2 separate regions of the Homo sapiens genome follow, and region 2 is linked to region 1. The links come from fine-mapping of genetic effects on gene expression. A gene starts in region 1. The other region holds a variant in brackets. All regions are shown on one strand. Distances are between the middles of the regions.

Region 1 (12,781 bases):
CGTTGGCGGCGGCGAAGGCCGCGACGGGGCCTCCTCCTCCTCCCTCCACCTCCGCCTCCTCCTCCTCCTCCTCCTCACCACGGAGGCGGACCTGGAGGGATCCCGATCTAGCTCTCGCGAGAAGTTACTCCCCACTTAACGCGAGATTACGCAAGCCCGGGAGTCGGGAGTTGGAAGGAAAGCGTAGTAGCCCCAGCCACCCAAACTGCGAATCAACTTCCCTCTGCCTCAGCGGATCCACCCCGATCACGTGACAAGGGAGCCCCGGAGCACTGTGGGAGGTACTGTGAGAAGGACTAGGCAAGCCGAAGGGATTGATGGGAAATTCCCTGCACATTCATCTGCGCCTTGAGCCGGCTTCCTAGACGCTGGTTTGAGCGAGTGTCTTAACTCCCTTCGTGAAAAGCGTGGAATCCATTGAGCAGAATCTGATACATCTGTGTCACATTCTTCTTCACACTCCTGTGATGACATGCCGACAGGATCCCTCAATCCCTTTACAAAGATGTCAAGTAATCTCCCCATTACAAAAACAAGAAGAAAACATGTATTTGGCAGGCACTTCCACATCTCACTTCTTTATTAAAGAGAAAACTCTGTTTCTAGACAAAGAGTCCAAAGTGGGGGGGGGAGGGGGGGAAGAAAGCTCTGAGCTCCTCAAAAGCTGGCAAAAATAAAAAATTTAAGCACAAATTCTGGCATCATATCTCAAATATTTGTTGAAGCTTTTTACACAGCGAACTAAGGTAAGAATTATTCTTACAGTTTATAATTTATAGATGAAACAGACTTGGAATAGGGATATCAGAATTAACATTTATAAACTACTTAGTATGTGTCAGGCAGGTCCTGTGTTAGGTGATATTTAATTTTAAATATTTTAGTTTTATTTACATTTCATTTAATTAGCAAAGTGATCCTAGAAGACAGATACAATGTACCCCTTGTTACTGATGAGAAACTAAAGAATGTAGGCTAGAAAATGACCATGACGCCGGGCGCGGTGGCTGATGCCTGTAATACCAGCACTTTGGGAGGCCGAAGCGGGTGGACCGCCAGGTCAGAAGTTAGAGACCAGTCTGGCCAACATAGTGAAACCCTGGCTCTACTAAAAATACAAAAATTAGCCGGGTGTGGTGGCGGGCACCTGTAATCCCAGCTACTCGGGGGGCTGAGGCAGGAGAATCACTTGAACCCGGGAGACGGAGGTTGCAGTGAGCCGAGACCGCGCCATTGCACTACAGCCAGGCGGGGGGGCAGTGCCAGACTCCGTCTCAACAAAAAAAAGAAGAAAAAAAATGACCATGACTTGTAATTAAACTCAAGGCACTTTCCAATGTGAAATCAGATGCCCAACAACAAAAATATCGAAGTAAACCTACGATAAATTAGAATATGGAAAGGTTGCTTCTACAGTTTTAACAAAATATATAGTTATTACCTATTATATTTGTCTGAATGACAGGCAAAAATCAGTGTTTTTGAAAAAAGATTCATTGGCCACATCGAAGACGTTTCTTCCACACATTATCTTTTTCGTTCTCTTCTCTTTATGAAACATATGCCAGGCCTAGAGAACTGTTAACAACCAATAATTGTTTCAGTAATTTCAACTGGACAGTGATAGGTAATTTACATGTACATATTTGTTTTCCACCCTACTGTGTATATATATATATACACACATATATACATATATGCACATATATACATATATACATACATATAAATATATATACACATATATAGATACATATAAGTATATATACACATATAAACATACACATTATATATACATATATGTACATATTTTTTTTTTTGAGACGGAGTCTCACTCTGTCACACAGGCTGGAGTGCAATGGTGTGATCTCAGCTCACTGCAACCTCCACCTCCTGGGTTCAAGGAATTCTCCTGCCTTAGCCTCCCCAGTAGCTGGAATTACAGGCACCCGTCATCATGCCCGGCTAAATTTCTTTTTTGTATTTTTGTAGAGACGGGTTTTCACCATGTTGGCCAGGCTGGTCTTGAACTCCTGACCTCAGAAGACCCGCCTGCCTCGGCCTCCAAAAGTGCTGGGATTGCAGGCGTGAGCCACCAGTCCAGGCCAAATTTTTCTATTCTACTGGATATATTTACATTTCACTAGACAGAAGAATATATATTTCTGATAATCCGAGATTTTTCAAAGGTGTCCTGGTCACCATATTTATTTTTGAGATGGGGTCTTGCTCCCTCAGTTAGGCTGACTGCAGCGGTGCGATATTGGCTTACTGCAACCTCTGCCTCCCAGGTTCAACGGATTCTCCTGTCTCAGACTCCCGAGTAGCTGGGATTACAGGCAAGCGCTACCATGCCCGGCTAATTTTTGTATTTTTAGTGAAGGGTTTTCATCAGGTTGGCCAGGCTTGTCTCAAACTCCTGACCTCAAGTGATCTGCCAGCCTCGGCCTCCCTAAGTGTTAGGATTACAGGCCTGAGCCTCGGCGCCCGGCGCTGACCACCATATTTAAAATTGCAATTCCATCCCCCTTCTCTGGTACTCCCTATTCCTGATTTTTCTCCAAATTCCTTCTCAAAATTTGACATACATGGATTTTACTTACTTGTTTACTGTTTGTCTCCCTTCACTAAGATGTTTCACAAGAGCAGGAATTTTTGTCTGTATACCTAACTTATATTTCATTGTAAGGACTCAGGAAGTATTTGCTAGATGAATGATTAATGTATAGTCAGGAGAAATTGTATCCTTTAAATTGTATCCTTTAAAATTCAAAGATGAAGACAAAACACATTGTTCTCCATTCCCACCTCCAGTTTATTATTTCTTATGTAAACATGTAAGATAGTTACATCCCAGGAAAAAGGGCAAGTGTTTTTCTCTGACAACGAAGTAACAACTACCTTTTCAAGATCTTTTATATGTAAATGGAGTAAATGAAGAGGCTGAACTCAAACACTTTTCATTTTTCTGTCATATCAGAAACATAAACTAAATGTGAATATGTTAAATGAATAAATTCTATACTTTGTCATACCTGAACTTTAAAAAAAGATTCCATTTTCCTGAAAATTTTTAGACATATCATGCAAACAGACACTCTCCTAGGAATGTTTGGAGATCATTCCGTGCTACTGAACAGGAATAAATAATATAAATAATAACCATCACTTTCACAAAACACCCCTCCCCCAGCAAAAATCTCAAAGTGCTCACAAAAAATTTTACAACAATCTTACAAGGCACACATAAAACTTAAACATAGTTTCAACCAATTTTTTTTCAAATATCCAAGATAGTAGATACTAATTCTTAAAAAATCAGAGTACTATTCTTTTACCCTCTCCTCCCATCTCCATCCTTCCCCCTTCCCCCCACGCCATTTTATAATAGGAAGCAAAAATAAGAAAAGTACTTCAATCACTAGTAAACTATTTCTGAAAAGAAAATATTTTCACACCAACAAATGGCCAATCTTAGGTCAAATGGAAGCAATGAACTATGAATGAAAAATTAGCAATGAGCTATCACACTTTCCAGTGGAAAAAGATCCACTAATTAGAAAAATTATGTCTCCAATGGAGTACTTAAGTAACAAAGTTCATAAAGACACAAAACCGTCCTCTCTTGCTTTCCCCTCTTCTGTTCTCAGGAAGAATTAAATACAAAATCATGGAATTTTAGACCTGGAAATGATCTTTCAAATGACCAAGATCAAAGTTATTTTACATATAAAGTTAAAAAGTTCAAGGAGAAATTCAGCACAATGTCGCTAACTAGTAACATTGGGTTATGAAGTCGGTTTTTTCATCAAACGAGACCTGCATTCTTGAAAGTCTCAAGGAAAGTTAAAATTCAGTGGAGAATGTCTTTCCCACAAAATTGTCAAAAAAAGGTTAACACTTATAACAACGAACATGTGATTCATTCATCACACAATTTTTATAAATGGTACAAAGTATATTACATTTTAAAATACAGAAGGGCTTCAATAGAAATTAAATACAGTAGAAATTCTACATAAAGCTAAGTTAACTAGAGGAGGACTAGAACAGCTTCAAAGAAAGATGCATCTAGTCAGTCTTCTTTACGAAAAGCAGTTCCTGTGTTTTAGAGAATATTATTTGCCCTGCAGTATATTTTAATCTTTGTTAAAATAATTTATAAAAGTTTTGTGTTATATGTAGACGGAGATGTTAGAGAACTATGGCTCAGAACACCATCTCAAATATGACTCTCGCTAAAATAATCATACAGTCATAGTTTTCCTTTTGGCATATTTTTGGAAATATAAAACTCTAGGGATGGTTAAGATTTTTATCAACACATAGTGAATGGAAATTACATTAATGTAAATGAAAAAATACAACACTAATAGCTACACCTTTTTAAATTGCTCATCTAGTAACAGCTAGAATATATATTGCCAATTCAAAATTTAAAATGACATGGATGAACCTCAAAGTCATTATGCTGGGTGAAAAAGCATTTCAAGAGGGAACGTACTATAAGATTCTGTTTATATGACAGTCCAGAAAAGGCAAAATAATAGTGACGGAGAACTGTTGCCAGGATTAGAGCTAGAAGGAGCTGACTACAAAGGGACAGCATAAGAGAGCTATTGGGAGTGAAGGAACTGTTCTGTACCGACTGCAGTAGTGGTGCACAAATCTTTCTGTTAAAATTCACAGAACTATACACCAAGAAGAAATTTCAATTTTACTTCATGTTAAATAAAAAATAAAATAGAGAGGAACTTTTAAAACAGTAGAACAGATATCCCTGGTAAAGGTAGAATTTCTCATTTTTCACAGCTTCATGCCAATGGTATAATTTTACTGGCCACAAAATTATTAAATCCGATTGTATTAAATAAAATCAAGAAACTCGGGCCCAATGAACCATTTCTTAAGTATGTATACTAATAAGGCATGGAAATAAAAGTATTTTAAGGATTATTAACCCTGTATAAAAAAATTCTGCTATTCCCAAGTGAATCTGAATTGTTACTTTATACATTTTAAAATGAAAAGTATCTTGGTGTTTAGTTTGGAATCCAAGAACAGCTGGTAAAAAGTTAAAAAAAAATTTTTTTAGTGCCATCTGTTCTAAAGTGACTAGAAACAGGTAATAGTGTTTTTACCTTTATTTTCTCTTCTTGTTATCCTAATTCATTAAAGTTTTTATATGATTGGATTTTATACTTAAATCAATTACCTAGAGACTCCAAATCGGAATCTGCAAATACTGCTGGATCCTTTGTCACTAGAATCAAGAATATATAAGAGAGGAACACTATTTCTCTAGGGATACTACTGAGACTTATATGTAAGGTATGAGATGAGACAGAATCCCATCAGCTTTACTGTGCCTCCCATAACTTTGGAACTGTTAGAAGTTCAGAAAGAATGATTATGTGTAAGCCGACAAAATATAAGAAACAAAGATTGGGGGGATGAAATATTACAAATGCTGCATCTCTACAGAAAGACTTGCGTAATAGAATAATACAAACTTTATATAACAAGTCTGTGATTATAATTATAGTAGACTTTGCCTTTTGAGATCAGGCCTAGATAGTTTTTCACCACTGCTTCTGCCATGGACAGAGGTTAAGTGCTTTTTGAGAGCAGACTTGTGCTTGAAATCCATATCACAACAGTGGCATTTGTATGGCCGATCCCCACTGTGTATGTTCAAGTGGTCCTGAAGTGTGCTTTTGGCAGTAAATGTCTTCAAGCACACAGTACACTGAAAGGGCCGTATGCCCATGTGTCCTCGGATGTGTCGGTTGAGATTTTTCTTCTGTGTAAATGTTTTTCCGCACTGTAAGCATAAGAATAGTTTATGCATTTTAAGGTGGCGCAGATAGTTTTCAACATGAAGAAAGCCTCGAGGACACCTGGGGCACTGGTGCCTCAGTGAATAACCTTCCTCCAGATTCTGAATCTCACTCACTGTACCATAACTTCCTTCAGTATTCTCACAAAATAAGCCCTGATCTTGATTCCCAGGAACTTCAGCCACTCTGCTCTCAACTGTAGAATTGATCAATGAATGCTGTGTTTCAGAGAAATACATGCTTGCTTTTGAAGAGGTACAAGGCTGTGAAAACTGCCCATTTTCGACACCAGCTGTACTGATGGATTCTACATGAAGGATACAAATTTCATTGTCTTTAAAACCTATGTCTACTGTAGACAGCTCTGGTGACTTCATTTCCTTTCTCTCTGATGTCAGACTCTCTACTGTAGACTGCAAAGCATTGCTTTCCTCTTCTTTAACATGGAAATCTATGTTTACAGGACTATCTTCTGAAATTTCAATTATCTCACAGTCTTTATCAGAATTTTCATCTTCATTCTTAACATCAGGATCAGAAGACTGACACAGGTCAGTGTGTTGGTTGTTGTTTTTCATAGAAAGATCAATTTCCAGATACTTTGACAAAGCTTCTGTGCACTTTTCCACAATGTGAACCATCTGAAGGTAACTGGCAGCAGTCAAGTATTTCAAAAGCTCTTTCCTTTTAACTTCAAGTGCTCCAGTATAGCAAGACAGTAACAATTTTCTGCCAACTTCTGCACTCTGTAAGATGGTGATTCTGACATGTTTTGACTGTGTGAGTAAAAACTGATCTCTCATAAAAGTGGAGCAAGCAGCCAAAATCACCTTGTGCCCCTGGAACTCAGTGTCATTAATGTAAATTGATACATCACAAAATAAATTCTGCTGTCTCAAAAGATTCATTTTCTGCAAGACCACATCTCCTTGCTGTTCAAACTGGAAATGCAGAACATCAGACTCAGCAGCCATGATCACAATCTAAGCAAAATAAAACACAAACATTGATGTAATAAGGATAGGGAATGCTTTCCCATGCTGTAATGGTGAAAACAAACGAAAAACCCCAAACCTGAATTAGGAAGAAGAAGACTCAAAGTCTAATGTAGGTGTTATGAACCTTTATGCCACCATCTCAAAACGAGAACTTTATAATGCACTTCTCTATGATCTCATAGCACATTTTTCATAACTTTGTTACAACATTCATTACAATGAATTGTAGTGAACAGTTTCTAGCTTGTTTCTTTTGCTAAATGTTGTGTGCCTTGTGGTCAAGAACAATCTATCAATTTTGAATATCCAATATAAGCACTGTGACCACCAAAAAGTTGATTTAACATAATATATCCAATTAGCAACTTTAACGTAATCTCCAAACTTCCTACTCCCCACCACTACAACAGGTCCTCCTTCCGGTTCACCTGGACAACTGCAATGTCTTCCAACAGGTCTTCTTTATACCACACTCTTCTGTATGCCAGATTACCCGCCTGAGTGCCACCAGGATTAACAACCCTTATTTTATTTTATTTTTAATTTCCCTTTTCTGCTTTAAATCTTCTATCGTTCTTCTCTACCTCCGGGACAGTCCAGATTTCTTAGGAAAGAATACGAGACCCATCACGATTTGGCTCTAACCCATCTTTATGGCTTTATCACCTTCTATTCTCTTTTTCATACTCGAACCTCGTTCAATACTAAATTTTTCCATCATTACCCAGACAAAAAGACACGAATACACATTTCTTACATTCGCGTTTCCAGTTCCTTTTTTCAGCTAGTGATTAGGCTCCTTTAAGCCCAAATCAAGTAAAACTAATATGACTCCACCTCCCGTTTCAACCAGAGAGAGTCAGCTGCTCTCTGAGCACCGCGAGATGGTGCCTGATGCATCTGTGTTCCTGCACCGAGCTCAGGGGCCCACACAGAGCAGGAGGAGCTCAGGGAACATCTGCTGAACTGAAACCGGATGCCAGGTTCAGCACACAGGTATTCTGGAGGCAACCCTGCGAAGGGCCAAGGCCCTGTCGGCCCAGTGGTTGCAGCACAAGATTAGCCACTCCGGGGCCGAGCCCAGCTGTCCTCCTCCTCCTCCTCCTCTTCCTCAGGCACCCTCCACCTGAGGAATCTACTTTGCACTCACTCACCGACTCAGAAAACTAGAGTCAAGGATTCCGCGGCAGCGTCTGCCCAAGCCGGAAGATGGACTTAGCCTGGAAGAAAACACATCCGGTGCCAACCAGCTTTATTCTTTACTGGGGCCCTCTAGGCGCCCCGGAAGGACATTCTGAGACGGTCTTCCTTCCTCACTTCCCCCCTCTTGGAATGACAGAAAGGCTCCTGAATGCCGGCAAGCCCCATCTCTCTTGTCCCAGTTTCGGCACTCGAGCCGTTTTCCCCCACCATCCCTTTTTTTTTTTAAGACGGAGTTTCGCTCTTGTTGCCCAGGCTGGAGTGCAATGGCGCGATTTCGGCTCACTGCAACCTTCGCCTCCCGGGTTCAAGCGACTCTCGCTCCGCAGCCTCCCAAGTAGCTGAGATTACAGGCGCCCGCCACCACGCCCGGCTCATTTTTGTATTTTTAGTAGAGACGGGGTTTCACCATGTTGGCTAGGCTGGTATCGAACTCCTGACCTCAGGAGATCCGCCCGCCTCGGCCTCCCTAAATGCTGGGATTACCGGGTTGAGCCACCGCGCCCAGCCGAGCCATTTCCTTTTGTGAGTCCTCCTGAACATCCGAATTGGAGACGGGGTTTGAGGTTCGGTTACGGCACGTCTGTCAGAGTAACCAGACCTTTTATGGATTATTCTGGGACGATTCCTCTCCTTATTGGGGCCACCTACAACTTGAAAGGTGGCAGAGCAGAAACTATCATAAAGATCCGTATTCGAGATTGCCTAGATAATGCCCCATCAGGAGATGGCCCCAACCTCTGGATCTAGCTTCACACTTAAATGCGTTCCTCCATCCCAAAACTTTTGGCCCAGCTGTTTCCTCTGACGTGCCCTAGCCTTTTCCCCAGGCTTTTTTTTTTTTTTTTTGAGACGGAGTCTCTCTCTGTCGCCCAGGCTGGAGTGCAGCGGCAGGATCTCGGCTCACTGCAAGCTCCGCCTCCTGGGTTCACGCCATTCTCCTGCCTCAGCCTCCCGAGTAAGCTGGGACTTCAGGTGCCCGCCACTTCGCCTGGCTAATTTTTTTTTTTTTGTATTTTTAGTAGAGACGGGGTTTCACCGTGTTAGCCAGGATGGTCTCGATCTCCTGACCTCGTGATCCGCCCGCCTTGGCCTCCCAAAGTGCTGGGATTACAGGCGTGAGCCACCGAGCCCGGCCTTCCCCAACGTATCTTTAAAGAACCCGTTTATAAATCTCATCATCCTGAAGCCATCCTGAACTGCCCTAAGATAATTGGTTCCCAGTTTGAAACCTGTAATCCCTTTTCCTGCCTTCATTATTGCACTTAACACGCCTGTATTAATTTGTGCCTCATCTAGGCAGAGTTATTTAGGACAGTGGCTTACTGATCTTTGTATTCTCGAAGTCTAGCACTTGGTAGGCATCAAGTATTTGTGCTGAATGAAGATATGACTGAAGAAATTCTTTTTCTTTTTTTTTTGAGACAGAGTCTCACTCTGTGGTCCAGGCTGGAGTGCAGTGGCACGATCTCGGCCTACCGCAACCTCCGCCTAGCAGGTTCAAGCAATTCTCCTGCCTCAGCCTCCCGAGTAGCTGGGATTACAGGTGCCTGCCACCACACCCAGCTACTTTTTGTATTTTTGGTAGAGACGGGGTTTCACCATGTTGGCCAGGCCGGTCTCGAACTCCTGACCTCAGGTGATCCACCCGCCTTGGCCTCCCAAAGTGCTGGGATTACAGGCATGAGCCGCCGCGCCCGGCCTCTGCACCAATTCTATTCCTTTTTTTTTTTTTTTTTTTTTTTTTTTGAGACAAAGTCTCGCTCTGTCGCCCAGACTGGAGTGCAGTGGTGCGATCTTGGCTCACTGCAAGCTCCGCCTCTCGGGTTCACGCCATTCTCCTGCCTCAGCCTCCCGAGTAGCTGGGACTAATGCCCTGCCACCAGGCCCGGCTAATTTTTTGTATTTTTAGTAGAGACGGGGTTTCACCGTGTTAGCCAGGATGGTCTCGATCTCCTGACCTTGTGATCCACCCGCCTCGGCCTCCCAAAGTGCTGGGATTACAGGCGTGAGCCACCGCGCCCGGCCGCCTCTGAACCAATTCTTAAAGGCAGTTGCTCTGCTCCTCCAGCAACAGGTTCTCGTGGAAGTAAATGAATCTAGTAACAACTTTCTGATTAATTCGTATTTTTTTCTGAAGGCAAGCTCAGCATGCTTAATATGTATTTTTAAGACTATACATAAAGAAGACCTTCCTGTATTCAAAGTAAAGCAATTAAAAAAGAATAGAAGGAGGGGAGAGTGAGAAAATAACCAATGACACCAGAGCTTTAATCGTCACACTTTTATTAAGGAAACTTCCCCATAATAAGTGAAGAGGTAGTTCATAGTATGTCTAACATACAACAGATTTAGAACAGCTATTCATGAGCTGAAATAAAATCTTCTGGGTTGTTTAGGACAGTATTTTAGAAGCAGTGACATTGGTCACCTTCCATTTATAGATCTGCTAATAAAGAAACTTAAATTAAAATCATATCTGATTTACCTCAGAGCCACTTCAGTTTGGAGTTTAGTATTAAATAATAAATAAATAACTGACAGAGTAATTTTTTTTTAAACCAAACTATGGTAGAGAGTCATCTCCTTTTTAGTTCTCCTGGGGATCCATAAAATACAAATGCTGAATGATAAAGGTTTTAAAAATCTTCCTCCTCTACAGAAATATGACTAGTTTTGAAAGTCATCTTCCTCTGTAAAATACTGGATATCAGTAACTTGACTTCTTTGCAATATAATCTAACAAACACGTATAAGCAAAGAAGGAGGAAAGTGAAGTTCCACAAAAATTAGAAAAATGTCTCACAGAAACAGAACACCTCTCCAGCCAAAAATGGAGGAGACTGTAAATCACTTCAGTGGTTTGCATTTTCAAAAGGTGAGAACTAAATGTTTTACTGATACAAAAGCACAAAGTTGCTGATTTTAACTGATCGAATACAGCAAGGCAGCTTTCTTTATTATTTCTAGTATAAAAGCAAATTGAGACTTTGTTTCACTAAGACCACATGAGACTATAAGCTCCATGAGGGCAGGGACTATATCAATCTTACCTTCATTATCCTCAGTATCTAGCATAGTGTCTAGCAACAGTAGGTGCTTAACTAATGTTTCTTGAACAACTGAATGAACCCAGAAATAGTCTCCAACCAAAGAGACCAATCTTATTTGAACCCGTGCCTTTTAGTCTTCAAACCAGTAACAAAAACAAGACATGAATGTGAGCAAACGAAGCACTCCAACTTGAAATTTCCCTGTGAAGAAATGATGTTGACAGAAAATACCAAAAAATGCTGTTTGGTTGACAGGGTAGAGTCTCACTATTGCATAGAATTGGTACTCTTTGGCTGGATCATGTAAAAATCACAATGCTAGGAAGCATCATTAGACCATATAATGAGTGATGTTAGGCATAAGGTACCTATTAGTCTTACCACTCAACTGTATTATCATTTTAAATATTTGAACAAAAGACAAAAATCATACTTCACATCTGACTCACATGATGATAATTTACATATGATAACAATGATACATGTAAACGTATCAAATATAACAATTGAAGATCCCCTCTGACTATGCAAGCCTAATTTTTCAAATCTGCATGCACTCTCATAGCTCAAAAATAAAAACAGAAAATCCTGATGGAAACTAATAAACAGTTTTCCACACAAAATCAACTTCGCATTTAGATTCTTCTCACATTATTCTTGCTTTTTCCCTCCCTAAACAAACCTAGCAAATCACTCACTTGGATGGGAAGAATATAATATTCATCTAACTAAAAAATAATTAATATAAATCCCTCTGCGATATTTTGTTGGCAAAATTCAGGTTGTCTCAGAAAGCCAACAGGGAGACACAAAGGGGAAACACAAACTAGGAGCTTTTTGCTAATGCATTATTCTTCATGTACTAAATCTTTTAAAGCCAAGGGATAGCGAGAAGAAGGAAGAAGATGCTAGCTCATATTTAGTTATACCTTGGTCAATATTGGCCAGGCCACCTCTTCAGGCTTTGGATACCCCAATTTAAAATGAAAGAGGTGGAGTAAATGACCTCTTAAGATTCTCTAAGGACTCTACTAATACTATTACCTAAATCTAACTCATGGGTGAGAAACAAATAAGACTTAGAATTTTAGGTCTGAAGTACAACATGTGTTTTAGGAAAAAGAGCTGTTTTGTTTTTCCTTTTTGAAAATTAACTTTGTATTTGCAATCAAAGGCAGCAAGGTGGCACAGTGTACCTTTAAGAGGTATCTGAATACAGAAATTTGATTGCCCCTTCTGTGTCCAACCTAACTTTTATCATCCGTTTTAGAAATTAAGGTACATGAGGAAACGAAAATTCAGAGACTTTTATGGTGCACAGGACAAAACTCTGATGGCCAAACTCACCTTTCTGATGGCTAAACTCTGAAACAAAATTCAGAGACTCCCAAATAGCCTCTTTTTAGAGAGCCCACTATACTTTAGCACATTTTTAGCGTGCCTGGAGCAGTCCTGATCTCAAAAGCATCAACAAGTTACACATTAATTATAAGCATATGGCCTCTTATGGGACATGCTACCAGAGAAACCGCCCATGTAAGTGCTGTTGTATAAGTGTACTTCTATCCCTGTTGATTATGCTCCTCATGGTCATCCCTAACTATCTGCCTGCAGGTGTTCCTCAAGAGAGAGTACTCTGGTATATGTGAACAATTCAATGAGATGAAGTTGGGCTATGATACTGTTGAAA
Region 2 (12,781 bases), 38 kb before region 1:
GCCGCCCCGTCTGAGAAGGGAGGAGACCCTCCGCCCGGCAACCGCCCCGTCTGAGAAGTGAGGAGCCCCTCCGCCCGGCAGCCGGCCCATCTGAGAAGTGAGGAGCGTCTCCGCCCGGCAGCCACCCCGTCCGGGAGGGAGGTGGGGGGATCAGCCCCCCGCCCGGCCAGCCGCCCCGTCCGGGAGGGAGGTGGGGGGGTCAGCCCCCCGCCCGGCCAGCCGCCCCGTCCGGGAGGTGAGGGGCGCCTCTGCCCAGCCACCCCTACTGGGAAGTGAGGAGACCCTCTGCCCAGCCAGCCGCTCCGTCCGGGAGGGAGGTTGGGGGGTCAGCACCCCGCCCGGCCAGCCACCCCGTCCAGGAGGGAGGTGGGGGGGTCAGCCCCCCGCCCGGCCAGCCGCCCTGTCGGGGATGTGAGGGGCGCCTCTGCCCGGCCGCCTATCGTCTGGGACGTGAGGAGCCCCTCTGCCTGGCTGCCCAGTCTGGAAAGTGAGAAGCGTCTGCCCGGCCGCCATCCCATCTAGGAAGTGAGGAGCGTCTCTGCCCGGCCACCCATTGTCTGAGATGTGGGGAGCGCCTTTGCCCCACCGCCCCGTCTGGGATGTGAGGAGCGCCTCTGCCTGGCCGCGACCCCGTCTGGGAGGTGAGGAGCGTCTCTGCCCAGCCGCCCCGTCTGAGAAGGGAGGAGACCCTCCGCCCGGCAACCGCCCCGTCTGAGAAGTGAGGAGCCCCTCCGCCCGGCAGCCGGCCCATCTGAGAAGTGAGGAGCGTCTCCGCCCGGCAGCCACCCCGTCCGGGAGGGAGGTGGGGGGGTCAGCCCCCCGCCCAGCCAGCCGCCCCGTCCGGGAGGGAGGTGGGGGGGTCAGCCCCCCGCCCGGCCAGCCGCCCCGTCCGGGAGGTGAGGGGCGCCTCTGCCCAGCCACCCCTACTGGGAAGTGAGAAGCCCCTCTGCCCAGCCAGCCGCTCCGTCCGGGAGGGAGGTTGGGGGGTCAGCACCCCGCCCGGCCAGCCACCCCGTCCAGGAGGGAGGTGGGGGTGTCAGCCCCCCGCCCGGCCAGCCGCCCTGTCGGGGATGTGAGGGGCGCCTCTGCCCGGCCGCCCCTACTGGGAAGTGAGGAGCCCCTCTGCCCGGCCACCACCCCGTCTGGGAGGTGTACCCAACAGCTCATTGAGAACGGGCCATGATGACAATTGCGGTTTTGTGGAATAGAAAGGGGGCAAAGGTGGGGAAAAGATTGAGAAATCGGATGGTTGCCGTGTCTGTGTGGAAAGAAGTAGACATGGGAGACTTTTCATTTTGTTCTGTACTAAGAAAAATTCTTCTGCCTTGGGATCCTGTTGATCTGTGACCTTACCCCCAACCCTGTGCTCTCTGAAACATGTGCTGTGTCCACTCAGGGTTAAATGGATTAAGGGCGGTGCAAGATGTGCTTTGTTAAACAGATGCTTGAAGGCAGCATGCTCGTTAAGAGTCATCACCACTCCCTAATCTCAAGTACCCAGGGACACAAACGCTGCGGAAGGCCGCAGGGTCCTCTGCCTAGGAAAACCAGAGACCTCTGTTCACTTGTTTATCTGCTGACCTTCCCTCCACTATTGTCCTATGACCCTGCCAAATCCCCCTCTGTGAGAAACACCCAAGAATGATCAATAAAAAATAAATAAATAAATAAATAAATAAAAAGAAAATGTGTTTCTATGTATACACCAAAATTTCATTATAATATAATCCTTAACAATATTCCCTCCTATATGTGTGTGTGTGTGTGTGTGTGTGTGTGTGTGTGTGTGTGTGTGTGTGTGTATGTGTTTTTTTTTTTTTTTTTTGTGGGGGGGTTAAGTTCCACTCTTGTCGCCCAGGTTACAGTGCAATGGCGCGATCTCGGCTCACTGCAACCTCCGCCTCCTGGGTTCAAGTGATTCTTCTGCCTCAGCCTCCCAAGTAGCTGGGATTACAGGCACGTGCCTGCCACCACGCCTGGTTAACTTTTGTATTTTTAGTAGAGATGGGGTTTTGCCATGTTGGCCAGGCTGGTCTCAAAATCCTGACCTCAGGTGATCTGCCCACTTCGGCCTCCCAAAGTGCTGGGATTACGGGTGTGAGCCACCATGCCTGGCCCCTACAACATTTTTAAAGCGGTGAAAAATTAAGTTCACGAACAGAAAGAAGACTATACATATTTGGTGTCATAATTATATATGCCTAAAGTAATGTTATTAATGTTATATATAAACATATGGTAATTAAATATAAAGTGTTAGTAGTAAGCAATGCCTTCACAATAGTTTCCCTTTTAGTCCTCTGGTATCTATAAACAACTTCATTATTCAGTCCTTCTCTTCTCCTTCTCTTTAACATGTACACATTGGCAGAGGAAGGTGATGCTCAATAAAAGACAAGTGCTCCTAGATTAGACTGGCTAAAAGTGAAGTAACAGAATATTAAAAAAACAGGTGATGGCCAGTTTACACGATTTTTTTTTTTTTTTTTTTTTGAGGCGGAGTTTTGCTCGTCACCCAGGCTGGAGTGCAATAGTGTGATCTCAGCTCACTGCAACCTCTGCTTCCCGGGTTCAAGCAATTCTCCTGCCTCAGCCTCTGGAGTACAGGTGCACATTATAGGCGCGCGCCTGCCAACACACCTGGCTAATTTTTGTATTTTTAGTAGAGATGGGGTTTCATCATGTTGGCCAAGCTGTTCTCAAACTCCTGACCTCAAGTGATCCGCCTGCCTTGGCCTCCCAAAGTGCTGGGATTATAGGCATAAGCCACTGTGCCTGGCCAACATCATCTTATAGATAAGAGGAAAACCAATAATTACTTCTTTCAAGAAGGGCATGAGCAGACCTATATTTCAGGAAGACAATCTGGTTGTCTGGAGGGGCCCAAAGATCCCTATGCCTTCCTCCACATTCTCTCTGAAACCTACTCTCATTATTCTTTTCCTCAGAGTTCCTATACAGAATATCGTGTCTCCTTGCTTTCCATCCTCAAAAAATAAAACTTGGCCGGGCATGGTGGCTCACACCTGTAATCCCAGCACCTTGGGAGGCTGAGGCGAGTGGATTACCTGAGGTCAGGAGTTCAAGACCAGCCTGGCCAACATGGTGAAACCCCGTCTCTATTAAAAATACAAAAATTAGCCAGAAGTGGTGGGACATGCCTGTAATCCCAGCTACTTGGGAGGCTGAAGCAGGAGAATTGCTTGAGCCTGGGAGACAGAGGTTGCAGTGAGCCGAGATTGTGCCACTGTACTCCAGCCTGGCCGACAGAGCAAGACTCTGTCTCCAAAAACAAACAAACAAACAAACAAACAAACAAACAAACAAAAAAAAAACAACAAACTGAGATAATCCACAAGGTTGCTCTAGAAAGCAAAAAATAAAGTTTTAACTATGAACCTCTCAAAAAAGAGTCAGGAGAAATAAAATCTTAACCAAGTGAGGTAAAGCAAGTGACAAGTAGGGATATACACTGAATTCTTAGTATTGGGGCAGCTAAAGGCTGCCTTTTCAGGGACAGGATCTCACTATGTTGCCTAGACTGCCTTAAATCCTAAATGCAAGTGATCCTCCCAGCTCTGCCTCCAGAGTAGCTGGGACTACAGGTGTGCACCACCATGCGTAACTCTCCCTATTCTTTTTAAATCCCTTCTTACCCATCTTAGAATCCACTATCTACCATTAATCCCTCCCTTGTAAATAATTTTTAACTCCCTTGATCCACTCCCTCTGTATCTCATTTGGTAAAAGCTCAATCCAATTCTTTACTTATTTTGTGCCTGCTACCAAGCAGCTAAATGTTGGAGAAAAATTGTGCAATCACGCTGTCTATAATCCCTTCAAAATTATAAATAATTCATTAATACGCTTCTTTACTAAGTTCATTTTCCCATCTCCAATAGCCTTTTCCCTTCCACTTTCAACCACCCCTCCTACAGCTAGATGATATTGTTTCCCACTTAACCACGAAAATAGATGAAAGCAGAGGAGAATAATTTATCTTTCCGCTACCAATTCCAGTAACCTTCCTGCACCTGTAGCCACATTCCTCTTAAAGATAAGGGACAATGAGTTCCTGTTCCTGACTAAAGCCAGTCTCACCACCTGTGGCCTAGGTCTCAAGCCCATTTGCCTTCCTCTAAGACTTCACTGAGGTAATTATCTTTTTTTCTCGTGGGCACCTTCTTTGACTACCTGCTCAAATGTTGTATCTTCTTTTTTTTTTTTGAGACGGAGTCTCGCTCTGTTGCCCAGGCTGGAGTGCAGTGGCGCAATCTCAGCTCACTGCAAGCTCCACCTCCCAGGTTCACGCCATTCTCCAGCCTCAGCCTCCCGAGGAGCTGGTACTACAGTTGCCCACCACCAGGCCCGGCTAATTTTTTCTGTTTTTAGTAGAGACGGGGTTTCACCGTGTTAGTGGGGGGGGGGGTTTCATCGTGTTAGCCAGGATAGTCCCGATCTCCTGACCTTGTGATCCGCCTGCCTCGGCCTCCCAAAGTGCTGGGATTACAGGCGTGAGCCACTGCGCCTGGCCAAATGTTGTATCTTCTAAGAGTCTTTCCTACACTATTCTATCTAAGAGATCTCCCCTTTCTCAATCACTCTTTTTCTCCTTTGTGTTTTTTTTTCATACTGCCTGTCATTACAAGATATTATGCTATATTTATTTATTTCATGTCTGTCTTCTTACTACAATGTAAGCCCCCGGAGGACAAGACTTTTGCCTTTCTTGCATCTCTCTATCTTTAGCACACAATACACTGTCTCATAACATCCCAAGTGCCCAATTATTATTATTATTTTAAAGGCAGAGTCTCCATCACCCAGGCAGGAGTGAGTCACCATGCCCAGCCAATTTTTTTTTTTTGTAGTAGAGACAAGGTCTTGCTATGTTGCCCAGGCTGGTCACAAACTCCTGAGCTCAAGTGATCTTCTTGCCTCAGCCTTTCAAAGTATTGGAATTACAGGCGTGAGCCACCTCACCCGGCCCCCAATTATTATTTGTTGCATTAATATAGAATAAGCTTCAAACATCATTATGGCCAAGAGAACCACTGATTTTCTGCCCTGATGCATTTCCCATTTCAGCAAGAGACCACTAAGTTATGCAGGCTCCATACCTTGGAGTCATCCTTGATTCCTCTCTTTTCTTTATAGCCCACATTCAATTGGTCCATGTTGTCAGCTCTACTTCCAAAATATATCCTAAGTATGACTACTTTTCATCATTTCCATTGCTATAGTCCTACCCGAGCTACCAAACTCCCACCTGTGGACCAATATAGAAGTTTAACTTGTCTCCATCCATGCAGACACCAGAGTGATATGTCTAAGACAAAATGAAAATTTCATCATTCCATTTAAATAAAACTCTAAAATGACTTCTTATTGCAAACAGAATAAAATCCAAATTCTTTGCTATGGCCAAAATTGCTTATTTACATGTTTACTGTTCCTCTTTTTCCATTAGAAACATCTTGAATAGTAACCAGTATATAATAATCTTTTATAACTTTTTTTTTTGAGACAAAGTCTCACTCTATCACCCAGGTTGGAGTGCAGTGGTGCTCACTGCAACCTCTACCTCCCAGGTTCACGCGATTCTCGTGCCTCAGCCTCCCCAGTAGCTGGGATTACAGGCGTGCACCACCATGCCCGGCTAATTTTTGTATTGTTAGTAGAGACAGAGTTTCCCCCATGCTGGCCAGGCTGGTCTCAAACTCCTGACCTCAAGTGATACACCAGCCTTGGCCTCCCAAAGTGCTGGGATTACAGGCATGAGCCACTGCTCCTGGCCACTATTTGTTGAGTTGGTTGATCCCTCGCTTTTGACACTCCCCAGAATGTAGCAATTCTTTGGAACATAACCCCAACATCCTAGTTCTAAAACATATCCACATATTTACATAATATTTATTCTACATATTTATTTTATGTTTACATATAATAAATATGTATTCTAAGAAGGGATTATTGAGCATCCACATTTTGTTTGGTTAGAGGGGTGTATAATAGAGAAAGAAAATATAGGTAAAATTAATTTATTTAAGTTGAACAAACATTTGCTGAATTTCTGGTGTTATGTGAACTAAGACAAACAGCCTATCCTCAAAAAGCTCAGAGTGAGGTAGCAATATGTATTTTTTAAACTGAAAGGACAGTCACATCACCTACTTTTCTAATCCTTTGTATTATCCCTGTTTGTTTAAACAGCAATAGAGTGTGAAGCTGGTTGGAAATAAGAAGTAAGAACTGTATATTATTTGCTCCTCCACATAAACATACTGAGTTTATGTTATCAGGTGTTTTCTAGATGCAGGAAATATAAAGATGAAGAACCCTTGCCAGGTGCCATGGCTCATGCCTGTAATCCTAGCACTTTGGGAGGCTGAGGTGGGCAGATTGAGCTCAGGAGTTCGAGACCAGCCTGGGCAACATGGTGAATCCCCATCTCTACAAAAAATATAAAAAAAATTTAGCCAGGCATGGTGGCGTGTGTCTGTGGTCCCAGCTACTCGAGAGGCTGAGGTGGGAGAATCCCCTGAGCCTGGGAGGCAGAAGTTGCAAGTGAGCCAAGATCATACCACTGCACTATAGAGTGAGGCCCTGTCTCCAGAAAAAAAAAAGATTAATAACCCATGAGATAAATGAAGTCCAGTGAAAACACACATGTAAATAAACAATTATAATACTGTAGTTTTATAACTATACCATAATTTTTATTTATTTATTTATATTTATTTTTTTGAGACGGAATCTTGCTCTGTCGTCCACACAGGAGTATAGTGGCGCCATCTCGGCTCACTGCAACCTCTGCCTCCCAAGTTCAAGCCATTCTCCCGCCTCAGCCTCCCGAGCAGCTGGGATTACAGGTGCTTGCCACCACACCCAGCTAACTATACCATAATTTTTAAACTACTATGTATGGAGTGCTATGGCAGCATGGTGAAGGATGCAATTAACACTGCCTAGGGAAGTCTGTGGAGGGAAGATAATATCTGAGTATGATTAGAAATAGTTATCCAGATAAAGAGGAGAGAGAAAATAATACAATATGGAATAAACAATATAGACAAGTGAAAAGAAGAGTAAAAGAAATTTATATAGTAATCAACAGTGATTAATTGAATATACCTTAAAAACAAAGTATACAAATGGCAGAGTAGAGCTAGAGGATAAAATCAGGATGAGATTCTGTGATGTACTGAGGAACTAATTAAGAATTTAAAGGAGACACACATATTTTAAAAAGAAAATAGTGGAAATGGAAAAGACAGATTGAGATATAGGAAGATACTGGATAAAAAGCCACTGAAGCAGTAAAACCAACTGGATTACCATGTGAAACACTAAAAATGTGACCAATAATTTTGCCATTATTATTATTTTTGAATGAGTGATATTTTATATATTTATTATTTTATTATTTTTATTTATTTATATTTTTGAGA[CAG/C]AGTCTTGCTCTGCTGCCCGGGTTGGAATACAGTGGTATAATCTCAGTTCACGGCAGACCTGACCTCCCGAGTTCAAGCAATCCTCCCACCTCAGCCTCCTGAGTAGCTAAGATGACAGGCGTATGCCACTATGCTCAGCCAATTTTGTTTATTTTTTTGTAGAGGTGAGGTCTCACTATGTTGCCCAGGCTGGTCTCAAACTCCTGGACTCAAGGTATCCTCCTGCCTTTGCCTCCCAAACTGCTGGGAATACAGGCATGAGCCACTACACCTAGTTTGGCTATTATTATTTTTACTGCTACTATTACAAGTCTGGCAAAATATAATAAAGTTCTGAACTAGGTACTGCAGATGAAGAATGTGAAGTCTGTTTGAAGGTATGAGAAAGAAGAAAATGGATTTTCAGCCTGGGCACTAATTGAGGGTGGAATGGCAATGAAACCACAGTTTCTTCTCTGACTTTTTTAGTCGAACTTTCTCAAAAGCTCCCCTTTTAGCTAAAAAGCTCTATTTCAGGTATGGACAAGCTGAATGTATTTCCTGGAGTCTCCCAAATTATCTTGATGTGAAATTCTGTATATAGAACTAGTTCGATTGGGTACAAACAGCATCTTTTTTCCTTAGGACTCCTTAATCCTCTTCTCTAGGCACTTCAAGTGGGGAAAAAAACTGAGAAGAGAAGCATGTTTCTGCTCTTTTCACTGCACACACACTTATCTTCTCTCTATCACAATGCTGCTGCTTGTAGAGCTCATTATGTACAGTGCCCAAGCTAGCCACTGAGGAAAGGAGACAACAATGAAGATATAGTCCACGGGGGTTACACTTATGTAAGATAGACAAACATTTAATAAACAGATCATGGGCCATAGTTTCTGTAAAGGGTTTTTATAAATAAAGTTTACAGCCATGCCCAATTTATGCATTGTCTGTGGCTGTTTTTTTGCTACAGTGGCACTGCTGAGTGGTTGTAACAGATTCTGTGGCCCACAAAGCCAAAAATGTTTGCTAGCTGGACTTCATAAAGAAGTTTGTCAAGCTCTAAAACAGGCCACTAATTAATTTTATGTGATAAGTGTTTGAAAGAGGAAGCTGGTTAGTATGAAGTGTCAGGGGAATTACCCTGAAAAAGCGAAGGATGAGCTAGACAAAGGAAAGGTCTCAAAGGCAAGGCTAGGAGTAACAGCATTATGTAAAAGACCTGAGGTGGGAAAGAGCACAGTGCATACCACAAACTGAGAGAAGGTCAGTGTGGCTTGAGTACAATTAGTGTTGTGTAATGAGATCAGAAAGGCAGACACAGATTAGATGATGCAGGGTCTTAGAGGCCACAACATAGATTTTATTTCTTAATCTACAGGACAATGAGAGGCTATCAAAGGCTTAGGTGAAGAAGGGTGGTATGAGTAAATCTGTGCTTTTAAAATATTTCTGTTTTAAGGGAAATAATGGGAGAAGGGGTGGACAGCGAGAGATTTAAGACTAGTGAGAAGGCAACAAGGGATCGAGAAAAGGAGATGACAGCTTGGATCACAAGGATGGAAAGAAGAATAAAGAACTGAGAAATATATAGGAAGATGAATTGGCAGAACTTTTTGACTGATTAAGCAGAAAAAGCTAAGGAAGGACAGCTGACAAATATGATTATTATAACACAGCATATATAACAGGCTGGATGGCTAAACTGGGTACACGAGGTGAGTACAATGGAAGGCAGGAGGAGGAGGTATGGGAGAAAATTAGCTCAGTTTGTTTAAAGTATCTAAAAACAAAATGAATATGCCCACAAAGAGTTGATAGACAGGGCAGGTGTGGTGGCTCACGTCTGTAATCCCAGTACTTTGGGAGGCCAAGGCAGGCAGATCGCTTGAGGTCAGGAGTTTGAGACCCGCCTGGTGAACATGGTGAAACCCTGTCTCTACTAAAAATACAAAAATTGGCCAGGCATGGTGGTGGGCGCCTGTGGTTCCAGCTACTCGGGAGGCTGAGGCAGGAGTATCGTTTGAACAGGGGAGGCAGAGGTTGCAGTGAGCCAAGATCATGCCACTGCACTCCACCCTGGGCGACAGAGCAAGACTCCACCTCAAAAAAAAAAAAAAAGTTGATACACTGGCCAGCAGAAAGTAGAAAAGCTGGGATCAATTTTTTGGTGAGGTCTCAAAAATGAAAGTCTTAGTTAAAAAACAAAACAACAAAAATTGGATAATAGTATTAAACCTTACATACATTAACTTTTAGGTCTCGGGTAAAGGGACATAGAAAAAGGGGTTAACCATAGGAGAAGAGAAAGAATACACAGGGAAAAAGAATGTTAAAAAGACCAAAAGCCGTAAAAAGGATATATATCTGCTTTACCATTTTGCCTGAGACTTTGCTGCTAGGTTTAACTGAATCTGAGCAAATAAGACTGCAAGTATTTTCATTCTGCACAGGTGCTCAGTATAAATATGGATTCCAGCTATAAAATGGTCTCAAAATATGACCACTGAGTAAAGTTCTAAATCACTTATGTAAATCTTGTACCCAGATCTTATATGTTTTGTTGTGAGGCAGAGTCTTGCTGTGTCCCTCAGGCTGGAGTGCAGTGGTGTGAACACACTCACTGCAGCCTTGACCTATGGGGTTCAAGCAATCCTTCCACTTCAGTCTTTTGAGCAGCTGGGACCACAACTGTGGGCCACACAGCTAATTTTTAAATTTTTTGTAGAGACGGGGGTCTCCTTATCTTGCCCAGGCTGGTCTCAAACTCCTGAGCACAAGCAATCCTCCTGCCTCAGCCCCGCAAACTGCTGGGACTACAGGCATGAGCTATGGTGCCCAGCCCTTAACTTGCATTTTTGAAAGTCATCACAAACTTCAGGACTGTATATAACATTCCCATAAAAATCAAAAATTAAACCCATATGAAACAGAATTCTCAACACTTACTTTTCAAGCTCTTCCTGAGAATGGGCAAATGTACAATTTGTTCCTCGTGGACAACCCCCTTGCTGTCGCAAATCTCGGCACATGCTAGTCTTGTATTTGCTGTTTGGCTGAGGCTACAAAAATGGGAACACATTCAATGAGTGGCAAGGTGAAGATTCCATTTGTTATTCACTCTAGGAAGTTCAGAACTTTATAATTACACCTTTAATTCTTTTTCACATTAGACAAGTAATTCTTGTGCTGAAACAACTAATATTCCATTGTTTCCTGTTGTGAGTTATGTGACATAACCCTGAATTGGCACTTCAGATATTCCTTCTGAAGATTATTCGAAACTGGTTCAAATGTTATGTCCATTTATTCATTAGTTAACAGAATGCCCAGAAAAAGAAAATATTTTTTCATCAATTTATTGCTGTCTTAAAATTCTGCTACCAAAATCAAACAATTTTAAAAAGCATTAAAAAAAAACCAAAAGCTTTGTCTACTTAAACTTTCTCAGAAAAGGTAGAATACAATTCCACCTAGAAGTGAAAAATTACCAATTCACTTGTCAGCTTGAGGGTGCAACTCTCAGGCTTAAACTATTTGAGTTCATACAATGAGGCAGAATATTAAAATTTCACTATTACTTCTACAATTTGCATCAAAATCTAAGACATTCTTATTCTTATGAGCCTAGGATGAAAACATTTGTTTTTAATATTTTAAGTTATAATATCTTCTAAGAATAAGGAGAGAAGAGTACAAAGTGTAGGTTTGATCCCAGCTCTTACTGACAGCACAACCTTTTTTATTTTTTATTTTTATCTTTGAGACGGAGTCTTGCTCTGTTGCCCAGGCTGGAGTGCAGTGGCGCCATCTCAGCTCACTGCAAGCTCCACTTCCCGGGTTCAGGCCATTCTCCCTGCCTCAGAGAGCTCCCAAGTAGCTGGGACTACAGGCGCCTGCCACCACGCCCGGCTAATTTTTTGTATTTTTAGTAGAGATGGGGCTTCACCATGTTAGCCAGGATGGTCTCGATCTCCTGACCTTGTGATCCGCCCGCCTCAGCCTCCCAAAGTGCTGGGATTATAGACATGAGCCACCGCGCCCAGCCCCCTGACAGCACAATCTTATGTTATTTAACCTCTTTGAATTTCAGCTTGGAAACAGCAACTACATTGCAGGTGGCTGTGAGGATAAGAAATAATACATGTAAAACATTGAATGTAGTGAATGGCTCATAATAATTTATTAAATAGAAGTTATAAGTATAAAGGATTATATCTTAACTTCTTTTTATTTTATATTTTTGGAGACAAGAGTCACTCTGTCGCCCAGGCTGGAGTGCAGTGGCGCGATCTCGGCTCACTGTAGCCTCCATCTCCCGGGTTCAAGCGATTCTCCTGACTCAGCCGTCTCAGTAGTTGGGATTACAGGCATCCACCACAATGCCTGGCTCATTTTTGTATTTTTTTTTTTTTAGTAGAGATGGGGTTTCACCATGTTGGCCAAGCTGGTCTCGAACTTCTGGCCTCAAGTGATCCACTCACCTCAACCTCCCAAAGTGCTGGGATTACAGGCGTGAGCCACTGTGCCTGGCCAGGTTTATATCTTAACTTCTAAAGTACACTGAAAAGTATCTTGAAAATTCAAATTTCGGCCAGGCACGATGGCTCACGCCTGTAATCCCAGCACTTTGGGAGGCCGAGGTGGGCAGATCACCTGAGGTCAGGAGTTTGAGACCAGCCTGGCCAACATGGTAAAACCCTCTCTACAAAAAATACAAAAATTAGCAGGGCGTGGTGGCACTTGCCTGTAATCCCAGTTACTTGGGAGGCTGAGGCAGGAGAATCACCTGAACTCAGGAGGCAGAGGTTGCAGTGAGCTGAGATAGCGTCACTGCACTCCAGCCTGGGTGACAGAGTGAGACTTTGTCTAAAAAAAAAAGAAAGAAAATTCAAATTCCATAAATTTACATATAGAAATTCAATACAGAAAAAAAATGACAATTTCCCACAGTAGAAAAGAATGAGACAAAACGTTTGGAATCAATTATCTACATTTGGTCAAAAATATTCTGCAATAAAGTATACTCACACCCAAGATACCCTCTAAACTCTTGGTGTGCTATGAAATGTTTACCAAGTACACTAAAAACTGGGTTCCTCCCAAAAGAATAGAGATGATAGAAACTTATGAGTCACATACGGAGTCCAATTAACAAAACAGCTGGTTAAGATGTTCAGGATGAAACTGAGTTAGAGACAACAGCAGTCAGAAATGTAATAAATGTACTTACCTGAGGGGTCTCATGGCCTTTTCTACTATAATTTTGTATGAAGTCCACAAGGCCATGAACTACTGTTTTAACAGCTACCATTGCATTTTCCAGCTGCTCCCAAGTTGGTGAAACA

Evidence for each region. PIP is the estimated chance that this variant, and not a neighbour inherited with it, causes the effect.
Region 2: its variant is fine-mapped to the expression of ZBTB6 in whole blood (INTERVAL, PIP 0.93).

The regions. Positions count from the first base shown.
Region 1 is chr9:122,905,259-122,918,039 of GRCh38, forward strand. ZBTB6 (zinc finger and BTB domain containing 6) reads right to left here and starts at 8,065. Exons shown (of 2, transcript NM_006626.6): 1 at 7,993-8,065; 2 at 2,798-6,823. The coding sequence starts at 6,814. The coding sequence ends at 5,540. ZBTB26 (zinc finger and BTB domain containing 26) reads right to left here. Exons shown (of 2, transcript NM_020924.4): 2 at 10,308-12,781. It overlaps RC3H2 (ring finger and CCCH-type domains 2), which reads right to left and starts at 101. Exons shown (of 21, transcript NM_001100588.3): 1 at 1-101. RefSeq lists a silencer at 1-205 and enhancers at 7,780-7,889, 7,900-8,129, 9,598-10,355.
Region 2 is chr9:122,867,089-122,879,869 of GRCh38, forward strand. It overlaps RC3H2 (ring finger and CCCH-type domains 2), which reads right to left. Exons shown (of 21, transcript NM_001100588.3): 8 at 12,667-12,781; 9 at 10,383-10,495. Among named protein-coding and RNA genes, the nearest start is that of SNORD90, 6.8 kb to the right of the region's middle. The variant CAG/C (reference allele first, on the strand shown) is at 7,452.